3 separate regions of the Homo sapiens genome follow, and all the other regions are reported to be linked to region 1. Evidence: microRNA targets listed by miRTarBase, many of them from high-throughput screens and not tested one by one. Region 1 holds a microRNA gene; each other region holds the end of a gene's coding sequence.

What was found. The annotated mature microRNA hsa-miR-6809-3p reads CUUCUCUUCUCUCCUUCCCAG and lies in region 1 at 4,026-4,046, shown strand. An mRNA with a match to its seed (bases 2 to 7 or 8) in the 3' UTR can be bound and repressed. Matches are read on the target gene's strand: a 7mer-m8 pairs with bases 2 to 8, a 7mer-A1 pairs with bases 2 to 7 and ends in A, and an 8mer does both.
Region 2: the mRNA of NAV2 is a reported target of hsa-miR-6809-3p. Seed matches in the 3' UTR shown: 7mer-A1 at 6,240-6,246, 7mer-m8 at 6,227-6,233, 7mer-m8 at 4,781-4,787 and 8mer at 3,456-3,463.
Region 3: miRTarBase lists SHOX2 as a target of hsa-miR-6809-3p. Seed matches in the 3' UTR shown: 7mer-A1 at 5,348-5,354, 8mer at 4,949-4,956 and 7mer-A1 at 4,926-4,932.

What each region holds. Positions count from the first base shown.
Region 1 is chr2:217,897,367-217,904,558 of GRCh38, reverse strand. MIR6809 (microRNA 6809) reads left to right here and starts at 3,931; the gene lies at 3,931-4,046. TNS1 (tensin 1) reads left to right here. Exons shown (of 33, transcript NM_001387777.1): 7 at 4,047-4,096; 8 at 6,590-6,761.
Region 2 is chr11:20,117,638-20,124,829 of GRCh38, reverse strand. NAV2 (neuron navigator 2) reads right to left here. Exons shown (of 38, transcript NM_145117.5): 38 at 3,229-6,697. The coding sequence ends at 6,572. It overlaps LOC107984418 (a long non-coding RNA gene), which reads left to right. Exons shown (of 3, transcript XR_001748477.2): 3 at 7,058-7,192. LOC124902643 (a long non-coding RNA gene) reads right to left here and starts at 1,890. Exons shown (of 3, transcript XR_007062615.1): 1 at 1,219-1,890.
Region 3 is chr3:158,092,255-158,099,446 of GRCh38, forward strand. SHOX2 (SHOX homeobox 2) reads right to left here. Exons shown (of 5, transcript NM_001163678.2): 5 at 3,651-6,030. The coding sequence ends at 5,773. Among named protein-coding and RNA genes, the nearest start is that of SHOX2, 11 kb to the right of the region's middle. RefSeq lists an enhancer at 5,744-5,913.

The DNA.
Region 1 (7,192 bases):
GACAAAATGAGCTTTGGAAAGGTAAGCAAGTGAGCAGCTACCAGAACGGCCTGTGTACTGTAAAAGAGGAGAGAAAACCTAATTTGTAAGGCTCCTGTCACCTGTCTCAGGTTGGGTTGGCTCCAGGGTCATTGAGCCAGTCCCCTGCCCAGCCACGGGACTCTCCAGCAGTCCACCCCGGGGGAGGAGGACCTGGGCCTGCTGCTGTGATAATGTGGCTGTTTGTCAAGCTGTGTTGCTGTCTCTGGCCCACGGCCCAGGACTCACAGGCAGGAATGGCTGTTTTCCTCCTGCCGAGTTGGTGTGTAGTGGAGTTTGTGGATAGTGTGCTGTGTCGCACTTTGTTTTGGAAAAATCCAGGCTAGTGGGCAGGAAGGAGAGGGGAAGGGGTGTGGCTGAAGGGGGTGCTATGTGGGGGTTGGCCACAGCCCCCAGAGGAGATGTAGGAATGGGGCCGGGCCCCTGACGTAGGTTGGTCACCAATCTCTGGCTGCCTGACAAGGCCCCTGGTGTTCGCTTACAGACCCTCCTCCCAACTGTGCCCCTCTGGGGATCTGGGCTCAGGAAATGGCTTTTCTTTTGGTCCTGAGCTGTTGTGTTTGGTCTGTGGACCTCAAAGGAAAGCAGGGCTCTTCCCACAGAGGCATTGCTTCAAACCAACCCCACCCAAGGCTGGAGGTTCGTGCTCCTTGCCTCATGACGGGGAAGAAGGCAGCAGATAACAGAACCTGGGGTCATAGACCTTGAGCCACCCAGTAGTGTCTGAGTGGTGATCCACTCTTGCCTGCAATGAGGACCAAGGCAAAAAGAGTTGGCTGAATCTGCAGCAGGAAGGATGAGGGTTAGATACCAGGAGGAAATTCCTGACAGTGAGAAAAGTAAGACACTCTGTCTGGGAGGCTGTCGAATTTCCTTTCATGGTGCCCTTTCAGCAAAGGAAGGATTGTGTTTTGGAGGTAAGGATGGGGAGAGTTCTGTTTGGTGTTTAGAGAGTTGGATGAAAAGTTCTGTAATCAACCTGTGTCTTGAGAGGAGCCAGGAAGAAGTTCAAAGCCATTTGGGTAAGGTGATTTGTGATCCCCGGAGAGGAAAAGAATAGGATTACAGGCAGGCAGAGAGCTTATTTTCCTTTTTATAAGGTTTGTAAAGTCCTGTAGTCGTTTTCCCTAGGGGCTCCACGCGGAGTAGGCAGAAGATTATGTGAGCACTGTGCAGTGCCCATTTTACAGATGGACAAATGAGACGGAACCTCTACTCCTCACACTGGGTATGGTGATGAGTATCATGGTCTGTAAAATATAAGCTCTCTGAGGTCAGGGACTTCACTTCCTTTGTCCCCTGGTGTCTAGAACATGGCTGGGCACACAGCTGGTGGCACTCGGTGGATGTTTGCTGAATGAGAGAATGAGCATGAAGATTGGAGGCCCAGGGATGACCGGATGCCTTGTGTTACTCCCACTGTGCTTGTAAAAAGCCTACGTGATGAGGCATGCTTCCAAAGGCACCATCTCTAGCCTCGTGTGAGGTCACCTGTGTTTCTGGAGCAGTAGGGTGTGTTTGCTGACATGCCGTGCCCCTGCCCCAGCCCATTTGTTGTTCTCTGAGTTCTGTCTGTCTGTGTGTACCGACACTCAGACGTGTCACCGTGCATGTCTGCTGTCCGCCAGCAAGGGTCACGTGCCCCCAAACTTTGCAGAAAACAGGAAGCCCCGTCAGTGAGAGGGCAGCCCAGTGATTCATCAGGGGATGACAGTCCCAGCTGTTCGTCCCCCATCCTCTGCACTGGGGTCACTGTCCAGGGTGGCTTCCTCCCCATGCCTCCCCTCCCCTCCCCGCCCGGTGGAGCAGAGCGGGCTTGGACTTTGCCTTATCACCTCTGGAGGCGGCCTGGCCAGACTCTGTTTGGGCCAAGTTTTTATTTATCTTCACTGGCTTTTTTTGGGGTGGGGAGGCTGAGGAATGTGGAGTGTTGTAATGTTTGGAAGAGGGCGGTGGGGAAAGGGGAGCCAGGTCTCCTGTCCTGCTTGTCCTGCTTACCCCTGCACCTTTGCAGGCTCCCGGCCCCCCTTGGTTCCCCAGTTCCCCCTGCCAAGCCCATATCAATATGGCCCATTGTCTTTCTCCAGCTCCCTGGGTCTGGTCCCATGCTCCTGGCCACACCTCACGTCTTGGCTACCGTTGTGGCTTCCAGTTGTTCAAAGCAGCTGTGGTGGCTTCCTCCAAAAGTGGCTACGGATCAGCAACAGATGAAACTCAAGGGGCTATTTATAGCAGGGTGGCCCTGGGGCCTGGAGCAGGGCCTAGGGCCTGGGGAGATTCAGGGACTCCTCATTAGGGACCAGTGAAATGGAGATGGGTGAACTGTTGGGTTTCTGTGTTCCTCTGAGGGGGCAGTTTTGGAACAGCCTGGTTTGGGTCTTGAAAACCAAACACAGTCACTCGTTGACTCCCAGCTCCACCCCTGTCTAATCCCCCCACCCCCAAGCTTGACTCATGCAAACTGGAGTCCTCAGGGCCAGAAGAGCTGTGAGACTTAGAAACTTCCCCCCAGTAGCCCCACTTGGCTCTTCCCTCCTTCACTGCTGAGGAGCTGCTCATTGGTCCGAGGCAGCTGGGACTCTGGGCAGAGCCTTCTTCCGGACAGCTGGATGGAGGGTCCCCCTCTTAGCAGAGCTGCTCTAACTTGGGGCTCAGCTGGGAGCTGGACCTCGGAACCCACCTATCCTGCCTCGTAGGCACTGCGGAGCCAGGAGAGGGGTGCAGGGGCTCCTCTTCTTGGAGACCCCGTGGTCAAGCCCCAGGTTGGAGTGTGAATCCTGCCTGGCCGTCAACTTCCCAGGGACTTGAGGGTAAGTTATTCTGTGCCTCAGTTTCTTCCTTTCTTGGCAGATTGTGGTCCTGTCTCTTTAAAGAAGAGGCTGCAACTTGGCGGTAGGAAAAGACCATTTTCTGAGAGGCACATGGGTGTTTGGAAGGTGTCAATGGGCTCAGGAGGTCTGAGAATCTAGAAACTGGCCTTCCCAATTCTGCATCCTGTGAGGTGACTGGAAGGATGGGTAGAGGCGATGCAGGGTGTTGGTTTTCTATAGAGGTGAATGTTTGGTTGTAACTACCCTTTTCATTTTTCTTGATACAAAAGTAACAACAAAAACAACAGCTGTCATCTGGTAAATACCAGGCATGATGCGAAGTGCCTTATATGCATAACTCCTTTGGATCCTCACTGCCAGCCTGAAGGTTGTCCCATTTTACATGTGACATTACAAGAGGCTCAGAGGGGTTAAGTAACTGGCAGGGCTGCCCAGCAGGATCCTGGAATCCAAACTCTGTGGTCTGTGGGCCTCTGACCCTGTGCTTTCACACCCGCCATGCCATCCTGCTGCCCTGGGATGGATTGGGCCCATTTGCTTAAGTTTGTACCACTCGACAGCTGTGAAAAGGGGAGTGGGTGAGATGGTTACTGTCTGCCACAGACAGTGGGGAGTGGGCCCTCAGGAGCATGGCTCACTGTCTTAGGCCTCGTCTTGGTTCCTGCATGCTCCACCTGCCTGTTCTGGTCTCTAAACTCAATTGAATGACTTGATGTTACAGCTTTCAAGCAGAGAAGTGTGGGGTGATGGTGGCAAGACAGAGGGGCGCCATTACTCTCATCGCTCCTTTTGTGGTGGCAGTCGTATTCTCCTCCTGGGGTTTCTCTTGTGTTGGCGAGTGTATCAAAGTGAAGTGTGTTTCCATTGATTCAGTAACTGTTGAGTGTGCCCTCAGTGTGGATGGCACCAGCCCAGTGGGGTGCACTCCTCAGCATTCGGGATTCTTCCTTTTGTCCCTCTGGGGCTTGCACACAGGCAGGCACACTCACGTGGAATCAGTGTTGATGGCTTTGGCTTCGGGCAGGCTGTGTTTTTGCAGGGGTTAGGGTGGCAGGGCCAGAATGTTGGCAAGGAAAGAAGAGGATCATGTTTGCCCCCGTGGACAGCTCTCTGGTGTGCTCCTCCTGCCATCCTGCCCACCCCTGCATAATGCTGCTTCTCTTCTCTCCTTCCCAGGGCTCCACCAGGGTCACCCCGAGTGTCCAGCCCCACCTCCAGCCCATCAGGTATGCCTGGCCCGTGGGGGCAGGGGGCGGGAGTGCAAGCAGGGGGGTCACTGTGGGTGTCCCTGTTAAGTCTTGCCTCTGGGTCCCCCGGACTGCAGCCATAAAGCCACGGGTGGGGAGTGTGGGCAAACGTGAAAGGCACAGGAGAGGATGCGTGCGGATGCCGTTGGCAACAGTTGTGTTTTGAGCTCTTAGCCAGCCCTTGAGCTGAGTCTTTATTTACCTGCATGAGCTCATCTAGTCCTTGCAACAACCCCGCAAGGTACGTATTTTATTCCCTTTGGTAGAGCAGCATTTCAGAGAGATGAGGTGACTTGTAAAGGTCACACAGCCACCAAGAGGCAGCACTTGGATTTGCGTTTAGGGCTGATGAGCATTGAGGCCTGTGCTGGATCTCTTCCTCTCTGCAGACAGGATTCTGACTGGGCAGAGTCATTTATGAAAGGGAAGTTCCCTATCTGGCTGGGCTGGCAGGGGCCGGGGGAAGGGGATGCACAAGGGACTTTGTGTCCTGGCGATCCAGAGAGTTTGTTTTGCCCTCTCTGCCTCACCTTCACCCACTGAGGCTCCTGAGATGATTGGGGATGCCAGCCCTGCAGTAGAGTTGAAGCCCCTGGAAGTTTCTGGCCCAGCTGCCAGCTGTCCACAGACTGGAGGTGGCTCCTTAGAGGATCCCCTCCTTCCCTTAGACCTGGGCAGGTGGATGCAGAGTGTGATGCTGAGGCTGTCCGGCTGGTGGCACTGTTCTGCATTTGCGTCCTTCCTGGGATCCAGCCTGTAGACAGGGGCGGGTCAGTGCCCCAGATGGGCCACGTCTGACTCATGGCCCTCACCAGCACGGCCCCTCTTGCTCCCCTTCCTGTGCTGAGGGAGAGGCTGAAATCACAGGAGCTTGTCTTGCGAGTTTTTCTGACATTCTAGTTTCTTCCTTGGAGCCAGAACAGAGAGGGGTTTTGGAGGATGGGGAGGAGGGGATGCTGCAAGTTAGCTGAGGCTCCCCGCCCTCACACCCACTTGCTTGCAGGTATGTGTGCGTGTGGCTTCTTGTCCCAGACTGGTCACCACCTACAAGAACTGTCCTTGGGTAGGCAGTTGGCTTGAGATAGAAACTTCTCCCCCACAGCTGCAATGAGAAGCTTTCCATAGGGACAAGAAGTAGCTGGGACTCAGAGTCAAACTCAAACCGGGCTCCTTACCTCTGGGTGCTGGTCCCCAGTCCCACTCAGGCCCCTGTCATCCCAACAGAGAGGTCCTGCCATGCCTCATCCTTGGCTGCCCCATCTCCACACCCCACCTGGACTGGGATTGAACCCTGGTGGAGGTCTGGATTCCTCATGGCTTCTCAGCATCTGGGGGCTTGTTCTGTCTAGTGCCAGAGAGCCCTCATCACTTTTAAATACCCCAGTGGTATTCCTTTCGCTGCCCTCCACTCTCCACTTTATCCCGCTGTGGTGAAAGGTTAGCAGAATGAAATGTCAGTGCTGCCTGCATTTGATAGAGGGGGAAGCGAGACACTAGGAGGTCAATGATTGGGGAAAAAGCTGGAGGGATGGGGGAGGTGCTTCTAGAAGCAAGAGGTGGGCTTCCCAAGTGGGCATCCTGGACCCTTCCTCTGGAAGAAAAGTTGGGAGAGATGTAAAGATGCGAGCCCCTCCCTTCCTCACCCAGTGCCCAGTGGAGAGGATGGCCAGCCCAGGGGCCTCCCCACCTCTCCGGGAAACGCATGGTGCTGGCGGCTGCCCGCCACTGCAGCAACAAGGGCTCTGTGCCCTCTTGTTTTCTGGGCCCTTAGAAATCAGGGAGGCTGCTGCCAAGAAGCAGCTCTGGCAGGCAGTGGGAGCTGCCAGAGGTGGGGAGAAGGCCAAGGAACAAAGGGCAGGAGTTGGCCTGCCTCCGGGAGGGCTGGAATGTGTGCTGTGGTCTGGCTTACCTGGAACCCAGGTGAACGTGTCACCTGAGATGCCCCCTCCCCTGAGAGGTTTCCCGCCCACTCCACAGCTCGAGAGCTAGGGGCGGGCAGTGGGAAGTCTCCGTTCCAGGGCTGGAGAGCGCCCAGCGCAGGCTCTCCTTCCTCTTCCAGAGCAGTCTGGGGCCTTTCGGGAGACTTCTGCCTGGCCAGGCAGCCAGTGTTGGGAGCCAGAGCTCCTGGGTTCCTGGGCCAGTCTGGCCCTGGCTCTGAGCTCTGGAGTCACAGGTTGAAGGCAGTGGCCAAAGGACTGATGGGAACCAAGAATTGGTGTCATCACAGTTTGGTTCTGAAATGGCCTGAGGTCCTTGCCAGCCCTACCCAGCTTGTTCTCGCCGGCACTCCCAAGCCGGCCACATTGGCCTTGCCAGAGGAAGCCTGTGGCCTTGGCCTTGGGTTGAAGAGCAGCCAAGCACCCTGGGCTGCATATGGGGGTCACACAGGGTGTGTATGGGGTGCAGCTATCTGGGGCCTTCCCTGTGGGCTGGATTCTGATATGGACCCTCCGCTGCCTGCTGTCTCCCTAGAAACATGAGTGTGAGCCGGACCATGGAGGACAGCTGTGAGCTGGACCTGGTGTACGTCACAGAGAGGATCATCGCTGTCTCCTTCCCCAGCACAGCCAATGAGGAGAACTTCCGGAGCAACCTCCGTGAGGTGGCGCAGATGCTCAAGTCCAAACATGGAGGCAACTACCTGGTGAGGATGGATCCTCGTGCCCACTGTCCTGTGCCCTCTATGCTTCCATCTGCTCACCACCTCTACATGACTGGTATCCCTGCCACCAGCCCCTGTGCCAGCATGCCCTCTTCTCTTTGTTTATCTGCCTTTCCCCTCAGGCAGCTCTCGTGCCTGAGTCTTCAATCACTCTCCAGCCCAGCTCTCCTCTAAGGAGTGTGCTGCAGCTGGAATGTAGCATCTGGAACTCTGTGTGTGCATGTGTGTGCTGGCCAGGAGAAGAGAGTACCAATAAGAGTTCAGGTTATTGAGCGCTTGCTACTAGCCAGGCCCTGTTCCAACTGCTTTCCACGCACTTAACCTTTGCAGCAGCCCTAGCAAGCAGGCACTTGCCAGAGCACAGAGAGGTGGGGTTATTTGCCTAAGGTTGCAGGGTCAGGAAGTGGCAGAGC
Region 2 (7,192 bases), not on the chromosome of region 1:
GGCCAGGAGGTGGAGGCTGCAATAAGCTATAATCACGCCACTGCACTCAAGCCTGGGTGACAGAGTAAGACCCAGTCTCCAAAACAAAAACCAACAAACAACAAATAATGGCTGACCGTTGAAAATTTATACTGTTTCCTAGATGACAGTGCTCTAACACAAAATGTCTTTCCTGAGCTGGTGCCTTAGTTACACTAACCTTGAAGAGGGCAGTCCAACCTTCGGCTTTAGAGTAAAAACCAGTGGATCCCATTGTCATGTGTTCTTTGTCACATTTTCTTTGCTTCTGAGACATTATTCATGATTCCATATAGCAAAGCAAGTGTGTGTTGGGTTTATTTCAGGGGTGTCTATCCTGTTCTTTTTAACTATTTGTCAATTCTTATACCAATAGCATAAGGTCTTAATGACCTTTATAATAAGTCTTGATTTTTGGTAGAAAAAACTCTCTCTTCTTGTTCTTGTTCATTGGCTATGCTTCACCTGTTGCATTTCCATTAAGTTTCCATGCATTTCCATGTAAGTTTTAGAATCATTTTGTCAATTCTATAAAAACTCTGTTGGGCTTTTAAATGAGATTGCATCAAATCTCATTTTGCAGGGATTGACGTGTTCACAACATGTATTCTAACTCAAAAGCATAATATTTTCCTACTTTTATTTGGGGTTTAATTTCTCTCAACTATGTTTAATAGGTTTCTTTATAGAAGTCTTGCACACCTTATATTGCATTTATTCTGCAGTGTTTGACATTTGTGCTCTTAAATTGTTTTTTTTTTTTTTTTTCTGAGATGGAGTCTTGCTCTGTCCCCAGGCTGGAGTGCAGAGGTGCGATCTCGGCTCACTGCAAGCTCCGCCTCCCGGGTTCACGCCATTCTCCTGCCTCAGCCTCCCCAGTAGCTGGGACTACAGGCACCCGCCACCACACCTGGCTAATTTTTTCTATTTTTTAGTAGAGATGGGGTTTCACCATGTTAGCCAGGATGGTCTCCATCTCCGGACCTCGTGATCCGCCCGCCTCGGCCTCCCAAAGTACTAGGGTTACAGGCGTGGGCCACCGTGCCCAGCCTAAATTGGTATTCTTAAAAATTTAAAACTTCTGGCAACATATAGATGTTCAACTGATTTTTATGTACTGACTTTGAAAACTTAGTTACCTTATTATTTCTAATAACTTACCGGTAAATTCTGTTGCATAATCTAAATACAAAGTGTTACCTGTGAATAAAGACTGTTGAATTTCTTCCTTTTCCAATCCTCATAATTTATTTTTCTTGTTTCTCTGTATTGACTAGGATCTCTACCACAATATTCAGTGGTGGTAAGAGACATCTTTATCTGTTTCTTAATCTGCAAGGAAAAACATTTAACATTTTACCATTAAATATGATTTATATTGTTCTTGCTTTTAAATATTTTCTTCCTTGCAAATTTTATTTCAGACATGTTGACTACAGCTCTGTGGGAAACCCTGAGGCACAGTACTCAACAAGACATACCTGAACCCCTGATCCACAGAAACTGTTAGAAAATGTTCTGCTGTAAGCTGCCAAATTTGGGGTTAATTTGTTACACAGCAATAAAGAGCTAATGCAGAAGGGATGTGTAATCCTCCATCGAAGTCCTATCTAAGTTGATTGTAGCTTAGCGTAGCAGAAAAGGCATGGGTTTTGAATCAGATATACCAAGAATTCCATTTCTACTATGTATTAATTTAACATTACTCAGCCTCAGTTTTCTTAACTATAAAATGGAGATAATCACACCTGCCTCTTAGAGGTGCTGTAATTATATGTGATAGAGTGAAATTTTCTATACGTCTGGTACCCAGTGAGTACGTAAATGCAGTTATGCAGTTCCTGTCCTTCCCTTCTTCTTTTTTTTTTTTTTTTTTTTTTTTTTGACAGAGTCTTGCTCTGTTGCCCAGGCTGGAGTGCAGTGACGTGATTCTTGGCTCACTGCAACCTCCGCCTCCTTGGTTCAAGTGATTCTCGTGCCTCGGCCTCCTGAGTAGCTGGGACTACAGGCACGTGCCACCACGCCCAGCTAATTTTTTGTATTTTTAGTAGAGAGGGGCTTTCACCATGTTGCCAGGATGGTCTTGAACTCCTGGGCTCAGGTAATCCACCTGCCTTGGCCTCCCAAAGTGTTGGGATTACAGGCGTGAGCCACCGCACCTGGCTCTTCCCTGCTCTTTAAAAAGCCATCTGTCCACCATCCCCTTTATGTATGCTGATCATATTTCCTAGGTAACCTCAGAATATATCATGGAGCAATGGGATAGAATGTTTGACATAGAATCTTGGAATTCAGGACATCTAGTCGTCAGACTTGTACTACCCCTTCTTTATTATTTTTTTGACAGGGATTAAAACTGCCTATGCTAAATATCTGGATTCTTTACCTCCTCCCTGGTTGGGCCACTGTTGTATGTTAAGAGTTAGACACTTCATGTCGTGAGCAGTTGAGCCAGCCATGTGGGATCAATTTCACTGTGAACCCACAGGACTCCAAACCATGCCTTTTTTGTTGTTGCTATTCAAAGTGAATGCTGAGATGTAAGGTCATCTCCCACTGCCTGTGTCTGCTATGGATGTGAGCTGCAATGTGACAGGAGGCCCCCAAGATTAGAAGGCAGCCTGGCAAGGCAGGACGGTCAGAAGATGGGGCTGAAACTCCAACTCACTTCTTGGCTATAGGTTCCTTGGCACGTCATTTTCTCTGTTTTTTTTTTTTTTTTTCCACTTGTAAAATGGGAGTAAGAATACCTCTCTGGCATCATTTTGCATTATACTGAGTATTTGGGAAAGCATTTGGAAATTAGTAGGTACTCAATACATTAAAAAAAAATCCTTTTCATGCCAAGGGATCGACTTAGGGGGCTGGCTGGACACTGATGTTGCTTGCCACTCAATGTGTGGTCCAGGCACTAGAGCACTGGTATTGCCTAGGAGTTTGTTAGAAATTGAGGATCCACTAGATCCCTGGTGATTCATAAAGTCTGAGAGGATCTGAAATTCTACAGTTCTAACAAGCTCCACAGGAGTGGCAAGAAGACCTGAGAAACTGAGAAGATGTGGGATATTGATGGCATACTAGCCAAGATGGGTTTGCAAAGGTTTGGGGTTTTCCCTGCATTTGCTGCATCCAGATAAGACTGACTTGCTCTTAGCATGAAATAAAACTCCTATGAGGACTTGCTCTAGCACAGACAAGCCAAACCACTAATCTGAATAAATAAGCATCAATTTTATTGAATCATGAATAATTTAAGACTGGTACAATCATCAGCTTTATTCTCTATGACATGGGGCATGATGTCCAGCAGATCATTGGCAAATCCAAAAACCTCATGACAAATGAAAATTAAATAGGTAGGAAGAGAGAGAGAGGAGGGGAGGAGGAAGGGGAGGGAGGATGGAAACATACCGTACACAAAATACTCAATTCCTAGTTTTCTCTTTAAAAATGGCTAGAAAAAATTCATCAAAATGCAGCACTTTAATCAATTATTTACAATTTCTATGTTACAATGAAAAAATGTACATCTTATAGAACATATTTCATAAAACTGCTCCACTGGAAACAACTAGATCAAAACAGCAAACCTTCCATTTAATATCCACAAAGTTGGATTATTTTTCCTTTTTGAAGTAGATTCGCCACAATCAAATTTGAATACAGAGAATTTTGAAGTTTAAGCATCAAACAACAAAGTAAAAGTCCCCAAGATACAACAAAGATCTAGGCAAGTCTTGTTCCTGTCCCACTCCCACCCCACCCCTAATGAAACTTAAAAGGTATTCCCATTTCAATTATGGCCTGTATCATTCTTGGCAGTTTGGGAAGAGAACTTTTGGCTTCCATTGGTAACTCAACATAAATGTTGCATAGAATTTATATATTTCAAAATTGGCCTAACTGTAGAAAAGGCAAAATGGAAGCATTTCCGATAGAGCCCTAAATGAGTACAAAGTCACTTTGTAAAAGGTGAGTGACACTAAAGTAAAAATATGACCAAAATAAGAAATGTGCATATTAGACAACCCTGCTTCCCGAAACTTTAGGAAGGACACGGAGTTGTGAGTCACACAAGGGCTATGCTACTTGAAGTCAATGTTCACCAATCAGGCAGCACTAGGTACAGAAGTCTTGGTTCTGAACCTGGACCCAGGAGGGAAGTCTGTGGGAAAGGGGAGAAGAGAATGACAAGAGAGGATGTCATATTAAAAAAAGGTTTCAAACAATATTGGCAGGTGTCTACTCACAAGGTGATTGGAAAACTGCCCACGAGGAGAAGTCAACTTTACCTCCTCCCAAATTCACAGTACGCGAGTGTAGTAGGGTCATTGCTGGGAGATAAATTGTCTGAGGAGGGCCACCCTTCAGGTTTACCAGAAATCTTAGGGTTTGGCCCCCCTGGTCACAGGCTAAATATATGGTTTAAAAGTTTTATTAAAAAGAAAAACAGAACAAGACACACTCACACCCAGATGACTAATGAAGGCTAAGCAGAATAGTCTGAGTTTGCTGAGACTAAAGCAGGGATAGTGTTGAAAAGTTTTCCTTTCACTAGTGGGACACATTCCCCTTTTCTTTTCAAAGAGGAAGAACATGGTGTCATCCAATGTGAAGTGAGCAGTTTCGGGTCAAACTCTTATGGTAAGAAACTAAAAAAAGATGCCAAGAGACAAACCTTCAGAAATAGAAGAAATGCAAAAGATGGAATAAAAACCCTGATCATTAAAACAGAGACACCTTCACTGGTGTCCAATAAGGATTCTCTTTACAAAACAGAAACAAACAACTCAAAAATTTACCATACTTTGTAATGAAAATACCAGTATGTTGAAGACACAGCAGACTGGGTTTCTATTAGAACAAGTATCAGCAAGGTCATGTAGACTTGTAGAAACTTTTGCCTTCTCCTGCACCAGACAGATCATTGTCCAGTTGGGTTGTCAGCTGGAGACCGAAAAGAACCTAAAAAATGGATCTTTTTTTTTTTCTTTTTCCCATGGTCACGCATCCACACAAATGAGTCTTTTGGATGAGAAAAGTCACAGCAACTTGAGTTCTCCTAATGAACAGATGACTTTTTAGCCCTGTTTGTTTCAATGGGGAAAACAATGACAAAAAAAACAAACCCCAGGCAGGCACGACACTTATGTAAAATGAACACAGTTAGTACAAAACCAGTAAGGCATCACTTTGGGAAGGTCAGCACCGAAGAGGTCAGGCAAGGCTCGTCCAGACGGGGCTTCTGGGAGGGAGTGACCCTCACCCTTATTGAGCTGCGTCATGTTGGTTCTGAGGAAAGTGCAAGTCTTTTGCAGGGTGACCGCATCACCCCACCGGAAGCTGGGGCGGGGACGCTGGAGGTGTTGGTGTGTGTTCTAAACCCTCAAGGACGAGAAGGGAAGGCAAGGTCCATGGCTCACCCACATGTCGAGGACCAGGTCCTCATCCATTTTAAAGGACACAGATACCCCCAGCCCTAGCAGGAGGAGGCGAGTGTGTAGGACTGTGAGGATGGACAACTAAAAACCAAAACTGAGCAGGACCAAACCAAAACTCAACTCCTGCGGTTCTTACTTTCACCAAAGGATTGATTCTGACCAAGAGGGGAAGGGGGAAAAAAAAATCTTCAAAAATCAATGCATCAGAAAGGAAGAAACTCAACCTCATTTTCAAAAGGTAACCTGTTCTCCAAAGTAGAACAAGTCTCACTATACACAGTGTTTGCAGAAAAAAAAAAAAAAAAACCTGATTCATTCATATATCAGAAGGAAAGAGACACATGCTGTTCTGCACTGACAGCCACATCCACTCGCTCACACTCTCACTCCGTCACTCACTCTCACGGATATTAATCAGAGGCTGATGGACCTGAATGGGGTGGTTTGATTGGAACAGGCAAAATACCTCTCGGGTAAGGAAAGCACCATTTAAAAAACATGAAAGCACGGTTTATTTGCTCCTAAGGTTTCCCTGTGTCGTAGCTCTGTAGTGCGTTGAACGTGACCAAAGCAAGCACCCTGGTTAGCACCAGTTCTCCCTGTGGCCGGCTGTGTGGGAGGGTGGGTGGCACGGCTCTGAGACCCAGTCTGGAGGGTCTGTGCTGAGGGGAAGCCGTGCTTCTCTGTGTTTCCGACTTTGCTCCAGTCTCTTCTGTCTCTGGGAAGCTCATGGCAGGATGCTGTTTGGTTTCAGAGCTTCATGTGGGTTCTCTTTTTTTTTTTCTCTCTGTCTCTCTTTTCATTTCAACGGCGATGATCCTTTCCCGAGAAGTATCTTCAGTGTCTTAGGGAGGTCACAGCAACAAGGCAAAACAATAATTAAAGTACAACAGAAGGTAGTGCAGTTCTCGCTGTGGAAGGAAGCGGTCCGCAGGCAGCTGGCCCGGGATGCCTGCACCCAGGTCGAGGCTGAAGGACGGGGGGTCTCGGTGTTCCCGCAGCTCTAAGGCTGTGGCTGGGGGCTGGCTCAGGAAGTCATCTTCAGGGTGATGTGGGGGATGCAGGTGGAATGCGGTGAGGAGAAGAGGAGGGCGCTGGGCTCCGGGCCCCTGTCACAGAGTGGACTCCAAAGAGGAGTCCAAGATGTCATCGTGATGGCTGTTGCTGTTGGAGTCGCTGTCATAGCTCTGGGGGCTGGAGTAGTTGGCTGCCTCCTGCAGCCTCATCAGCATGTTCATCTAGGGGAAGAGTGGAGAAGCATGAGCTGCTTTCTGTCTAGTTGGCCGCCCACCCTGGACTCCTAAAAGGTCATGCCACCTCCTCCAGACTCACCTGGGATAACAGCCCACAGTGGAGGCAGTGGACAAGAACATGGACTTTGGGCCAGGCTTCTAGGGTTCAAATCCCAGCTTCACCAATTACTAGCTGCATGACTTTGAACACATTACTTAACCTCTTTATACTTGTTTCTTTACTGGTCAAATGTGAATAATAATAGTACCTGCCCTATAATGTTATGGGTGGATTGAGTTAATATACGTAGAGCACTGAAAACAAAATGATGATCTCTATACATAGCTTATTTATTTTTTATTTAGGAGGGGCACACCTTTCAGGCCTAGCCCTCGGCCTGGATGAAGGTGTGGCTGAGCATCCCTGTTCCTGGAACTTGGCATCAGCATCACTGACATCGGAAGCACATGGACCCCCTCCCACTTCAACAAGCATCAAAC
Region 3 (7,192 bases), not on the chromosome of region 1:
GTAATTATTATTTAGTACTTAGTATACATATGCAAGGCATTGTTCTAAGGGTTTTACAAATATTAACTCATTTAATCCTCCTAACCATTCCATGAGATAGACACTATTTTTATCCACATTTTACAGATAAGGAAACTGAGGGACAGAGAGATTAACTTGTCCAAAATCAGAGGACTGGTAAACAGTAGCAGTGAAATTTGAATCCAGCAGTGAAGCATAGCTCCACAGTGTGTGCTCTTAAACATACACTATTCTGCTTGAATAAGAGTCTACAAAGATCCTTACTCAGGACATATGAGGAGTTGTTCAGCAAGAAAAGAAGCATGTTTACTCCTCCCTATTTGATGTATTTGATTATATTCTAAAACCTTTCCTCATGCCAATAGAACTCCGCGTATTATACTAAACTTTCCTGCACCGAAGGCATATGTAATGGTTACCTTGACTGACATGTAAAATACCCAAAACAAAATACCCCGAGACTCGAGGATTTTTTGTTTCATGAATTAGACACCAAAAAAAAAATTGTCTAGGCATCAGAAGTGTTATACACTCACATCTGTAAGTCTTTCTTGGGATTTTCAGATTTCTTATACAAGATTTTTTTTTGTCTGAAATATTTCAGTGCTCACTCAATGCCTGAGCTTGAAAATTATCTAATCCTTTTTAATTTTTTCATTTTCAGCTACTTTGCCTTCAGGCATAGGGCAGGGCAAGCACTTGCTTTCAATATGATGTTTAACACTTTTTATGTTTTTATTTTCGTCATCTTGAAAACATGCTAGTAAACATCCAAACATACTGTAAAGATTTAAAATTTGGGGTGTGTATACGTATATCAACAGGAGTTATGAATTATGTATATTGCAGGCCTATATAAATTAGATTTTGAAGAACAAGCATCACAGTAATCAAGCGGGTCATAATAAGACATTCCATGTGAAATGTAAAAACTACCTTGAATAAATTATCTGTAAGTTAACATTCTCATTAGAATGACATATTTATTATTTCTGGGTTTGTGATATTGCTTTAATGTATTTTGGCTAACTGTTTTAATGGCATATTAAGAAACCATTTCAGGCCTTTTTTCCCCGTTGGAATTTGCAGACTTTTATTTCCGTTTGAACTAAAATAATATAATATTAAAAACAATCCCCCACTTCCCAATGTACAATACCATTTTCTTCTGCCCAGAAATATTTAATTAAAGCAGGATATAACCTCAGTAATTATTTTTACACAGAATGACTCTTAAATTAATAGTCAGTTGTATGACTAAAAATTGGGAGACTGACAATCAAAACAATCTTAAATGCTTTGTTTATGTGATGAAAATGAGTGATCCTTTAATTCCCTCACACACATTAAACTGATTTCACAGATTTTCTGTACTGGTGTTTAACATAGTCAAGTGCTTGAGGTTATGTAAAATAAACAATCTTGAGATCTTATTGCAAATGTTTGCAATTTATGATGTAAACTGATTTGTGAAGAAAAAACAGGATCCTATGTCGCTGAAGCCAAAGAGGCATTTTTCAGAAATCAAAATAGTTCCGAAATTTGAGCATTGCATTATACTAAAGTATTACCATCTGAGGACCCAAAAAAGTTATAAATCTGGGGAAAAACTCAAAATAGATGTACATCAGTTCAGCTCCAAGCAAAGGCACCGATCTTACTATCTTACTGTGTCTCTTGTATCATAGGGTCCTTAACACTAATGATGTCTTAAACAATCTCTTTTAACTCAGTTTTTCCCAGTCATTGATTTTGCAACTCGGGAAGGTTTTGCATGCCCAAAAGATTTGGGGAGCAGAGGATGGGGGTGTCCTTTATTAATTATATTAGGATTATTGAGTTTCGACCCAAACTACAAGCATGTTGGGCCTTATTTAAATTTAAAGTGAATTCCTCAGACCCCTTCTTGGGATGGTTCGGGGAACTACGAGTTTGGAACTCTTGTTCACACACCGAGGCGCCTGCCCCAGAGTTTGGACACTGGCATTCCGGGAGAGCAGGCCTTGCGGGAGTCTGGACCCGAAGGGCGAGACTCCACAGGGCCAAGGAAAGCGGCCTCTGTCCTCCGTTAGTCTTGGGGGAGCAGACGCAAGAGGAGGCAAGGGCGCCGCGAGCTCCCCGGATGCACTGGTCCCACAGGCCGTGCCCGAGTGGAGCACTGCGAATGGGGCCAAGAAATTTTGGCCTTTCTCGCCGGACCTGGCTGCCTCCGCGGGCCTCTCCGCCTACCGCGCTCCCGCCGCGGCCCGACTCCCGCGGGTCTCCGCGCCGAACCCACCTGGCTCCTATCGCACGGGACATTCCCGACCCACCCACGCCGCGTCACTGAGCCTCTGTACCGATACCCGGCGCCTCCGCCAGCAGGGCCTGGACGCACCGCCTCCTTTGACCTCGGGCTTCCCCCGCGCTCCGCTGCTTGGGGCAGACTGGCCCCGAGAGGGAGCCACCATCTCCCCTGCTCCAGGGTCTCCAGGGTCCGAACCCGTGTTGGGATCTGGGTTAGGATTAGGGTTTGGAGCTTGGAGCCTGCCTGTTAGGACCCCCGGCCCCGGCGCCGACTGGAGCTCGCTGGAGGCCACAGGACCACGGCGGATGGCCTGGCTGCTTCAGGGCGTACCATGCCCGCAGGCAGATGTTTATTATTAAAAACTACCGACGTTCATCAACCAGGAGACCCGCAAGGCCTGCGCACTGAATACGGCCCAAATCCTGTTCAGTGGTCTTTGAAAGTTAAAAGAAAGAAACCTATCGCCCACGTCTATGCTGAGGAACAGCTTTGAATACGAGCTAAGACCTGGGAGAGGGCCAAGTGGGGGTGGTGGGGAACACTGCTGGAGGATGTGGGGCTTTGGCAGGGGTTTTACGCACCCTCCAGCACGAGGGTGGGGGGTCCCAGGGGACGCTCAGGACTCTTTCAGTCTTTGCGGAAGGTCCCGTCATCACAAGAGCCCGCGCGGGAAGGAAAGTTCCTGCCTTGGACATGGTCAGGGCCGAGTCTTCAAAGTCTCCAACTATCCCCACACAGGCAGCACCTTTGGGCTTTACTAGTGGGATTTCTTCCAGAAGGGGGCCACGACATGGGGAGAGAGAGCTCCTCATTATTTTCAAGGCCAGGCTTTTCCTAAACCCGATTCTGGCTTCCACCTTCTAAATTTAACCAATGAAGAAGCTGCTTCAGCCAACCCTAAACAGGAGTGTCAGATGGGGAATCCTCCCTCCACAGTGCCCTGGCCTGCCCGCCTTTGCGGCTCTTTTCCCGCTCCGAAGTCAGCACCTGCCCCGCTCCAGAGAGGGTCAACGAACTGGGACTGATTGTCGATTATGCCATACCAAACCCAGGTTGATTTCGCTCCGCAGGATCCCTCCTTCCTTCCTCCCAAAAGTGTCCCCAGATAAAGACTGGAATTATAGCAAAACGAATAACGAGAGTCCATCTTGGGGAAGGAAGTTACTCTATCCTATGTTATTTTACTTCTTATCTGTTCTTTCATTAATTTGGTATAACCCTGTTTCTATGCTGGGTGGATAAAATGGAGGGGGCCGGCGGAAATGCGCTCAGCGCTAACGACAGCCACAGAGCCACCCTTCTTACTGCCCCTTGACTGCGGCACGTAAGAGCAGAGGCAAGCGCTTTTCCAAGTTGGTATATTCGAGAGAGTGATACGCATTAATCAAAAGGGAAAGACTATCCCGGATATTTTAATAGTAACAGGAACAAAGATGACTCGAACCCCATCAAATGAAACGATATTTTCATTCAATTGATCGCAAAGTGTCTTCAATTAATAACTTGGCACTTATTTAAAAGGTTTAACAGAATTGGAGGCGACACATTTTGTACTGACAACACGTCATGAGATAACATCTTTTGTTTAAAATAACTTAATACACTAGAAAAAAATATGTCAAATATAAATAATTTTGTTTTCATGGAGAACAAATAGTTACAAAGCTCAACCGCATACCAAAGTTCAGTTAGAAGAGCTTTTCCTCTTTCTTGTAAATTAGAAGGTAAAACAAAAACAAAAACAAAACCCCACAAACTTAGGCTTGCTAGCGAATTGGGATACAGACTGGCTTAGTCCAAGGTATCCCAGTTTAAATAGCTACATGAATTGAAACAAACAACCAAAAGAAAAAAAAAAACAAAAAAGAAACAAACAAACAAAAAAAAAAGGTTACTTGAATAGATACACCTTTGTGAGATAAAATGCAAATGTTGAAAGTCAGTCCACACATTATAGTCAAAATAAACTTTGTTCGTGTGTATCAACATATCTTACACAAACCTAGTGCCTGTATCTAGCTGGGTGTTATTTAAGGTGAATTTGACGGGATAGAGAGGGGGAAATAAACCACTGTCTTCAAATAGGACTTCAGGAAACCAACAAGAAGGAACACAAGAAAAGGGGAATGGTGGGAACTAATACTGATTGAGCGCCTACTGTGTCTGGCACAGCGAGGCGCTGTACCTTCATTATTTCATTTGGTGGTCTTGTTTTCTTTTTCCTTTCCCCACATATTCTGCCCACCTCTGTCTTCTTAGGACAATGAGTGTAATTTTTTCCCTTTCTGACTTTTTTCTTTTGTTCCCCAGGATCAAAGACAGGGCAAATATATATATATATATATATATATATATATATATATATATATGGCAAATATATGATATATATATATGGATATATATATATCAATTTCCAGATACTTTTGGTATTGTTTTTCATAGTGAAGATGAAAATGGAGTGAGTGCATGGGAGATAAGGGGGTGGGAGGAGACACACCATCAATGGAATACAAGTAACATGCAAACCGGAATTTACTGTCAGCAGTCCAGACAGTTTTGCCATAATAATTTCTCAGAGAAATCATTGTCTGTGGCATTTTTTTGTGTTAATATTATTTTTCTCTCTCCTCGTTTTAATATTTTCTCTTTTCTTGCTCTTCCATACATGGTGGGTTTAAACTCAAAGCATCTGATTCAACGTAAAAGGAGGCCCGCCTCTCTCATCAAATTTCTCGTGTTAACGTGAACTTCGCAGAAAAAGGTCAGTTTCAAAACCTGTGAACTTCCCAGCTGCGCACTTTTTTCATCTTAGTTTTTTAAATAAGTATACCTCTTCTTTCTGCTTTGCCTTCTTAGCGCATTTTTAAAAACACACATTTAAGTTGGTAACTCCCCCCAGTCTCTCGAGAATCGTCTGGGTTGTTTTTCCATATTTTTAAATGTATAAAATACTTTAATTTTAAAATTTGTTTTTGCTCCTTGGTTCTCCAATTTCAGCTTCTGCCAAATAGCAGTTAAGAAATAAGTTCCCTTCCTCTTTTTCTCTCCCGTTTGTCTTTCGATTTTTTTGTTTGCTCATTTTTTCATTGTTAACAAGATTTTTTTTTCTATGCAAGAGTCCATCGTTGCAGCTTTGCGGTGAGCCAAACTCCGCGGTTCCAGCACTCCCCTGTCCAGTCTCTCTCCAGACTCCCCCAAACCCGCTCCTACAAAACCCAATTCTAGGCCCTCGAGTAGGAAAACGGGCAGGAGCCACGGAGCCTGCGTGCCTCGTGAGATCCCTGGTCCTGCGTGGAGTCTGGCTTTCCGAGTCCAAGATGCGATAGGGGACGAGGGATGGTCAGTGAGGCGGGAAGAGGGCCGGCTCCCGAGGTCTCAAAGGGGTAACGGAGAAGCAGCGGGGCGCGGAGGGCGTGCAGGCTGAGTGCCGCGGGACAGGCGCGACATTGGTGCTGGCGTTGGCGTCACAGACCCAGGGCTGCGGCGTGCTTTTTGGCTTTCAGTCTGAGATCGGCGATGCTGGAGTTCTTGCTGGTGGTCTTGGCGGCTGCTGCGGCCGCCACTACCGAGGCGGCGGAAGCCGAATCCGCGGCCAGCGTGGCGAGCGGCAGTCCGAAGGGCGGTGCTGGGAACATCATGTAGGGCGCGTGCGCGGCCAGGTGCGGATGCAGGTGGTGGTGCGCGTGCGCCACAGCGCTGTCCAGCTGCAGCTGCGCCTGAACCTGAAAGGACAAGGGCGTCACGTTGCAATGACTATCCTAGGGTGACAACAGAATAGAAACAGAGCATTAACGGCGTCCAGCTTGGCCAGAGAGAGAGTTGGGTTGTGTTTGGGCACGGGGAGAGGGCATTTGGCTGTGCATCTTGTTCCGACAGTGACCTTCTCAGCCTGTTGCTGAATCTGGGGTTCCACATGGATACTCCAGTGTCCCCTGGGTCTCCGAAACTCGCTTAGGGTAGGCTTATTTCCCCGGACCCCGGGAACCCCCTTCTGCAGGAATGTGGCCGTCTCCCCTGGGAACTGGGCTGAAATGGTATATTGGAAAGACTGCGGGTGAGGACCCTTACCCTCTTCTCTTGATGCTGCCATGCATCTCTTACCCCACTACCAAAACAACGGAGTATCAACAAGCAAACTACGCAACTTTTTAATGTCATTCAGGGAAGTTACTCCATCTTCACCACAATAGGCACAATTGTGAGTCGGTACTTCTAACCTTTATTGCCATAACAATTACCCAGGGATCTCGTTAAAATTCAGATTCTGATTCGCAAGGTCTAGGTTGGGGCCTGAGATTCTGAATTTCTAACAATCTCCCAGACGGTGTTGTTGCTGCTGGCCCAAAGATTACCTTTTGAGTAGTAAAGGTCTCCTTTTAAAGTCACCCCTCCCTCTTTCTTCAGTCATTCTCTCTTGTTTCCAAAGCCAAGCATCAGGATGCCAGAGTCCTGTGGCACCAAGAGAGCTAAGATCTCCCTAACACCGACTCTCAATTCATGGTCACACCTATCTGTCTCCCCGGTCCAAGTCACTGGAGACTGAGAGCTAATTCATGACATCACAGGCATGCCAAGCAGGGGTCCTGGCTGAGGATAGGGAAGGTCAGACACTGGTTGGGAAAGGATTTCGCCCTCAGGCTTGGAAAGTGGGGAGTTCAGAGCACTGGGATTTCCCAGGATTAAATCATTGCTGCAGGCTGTCCTTTTAAAATGTACTCTTAAAGGTTTCTTTATGGCTAAGGGATTGCAAAGGCAGGGCAGCCCTGGGAAGACCAAGACTTCTCTCTTTACCAGAGATGAAGCTTTGTTTGCAGAAACAGATTTAAAAACAAAAGAACGAAAAAACAAAAGTATGAGCTGGGAGTACTTGTGTTTATTTTTCTT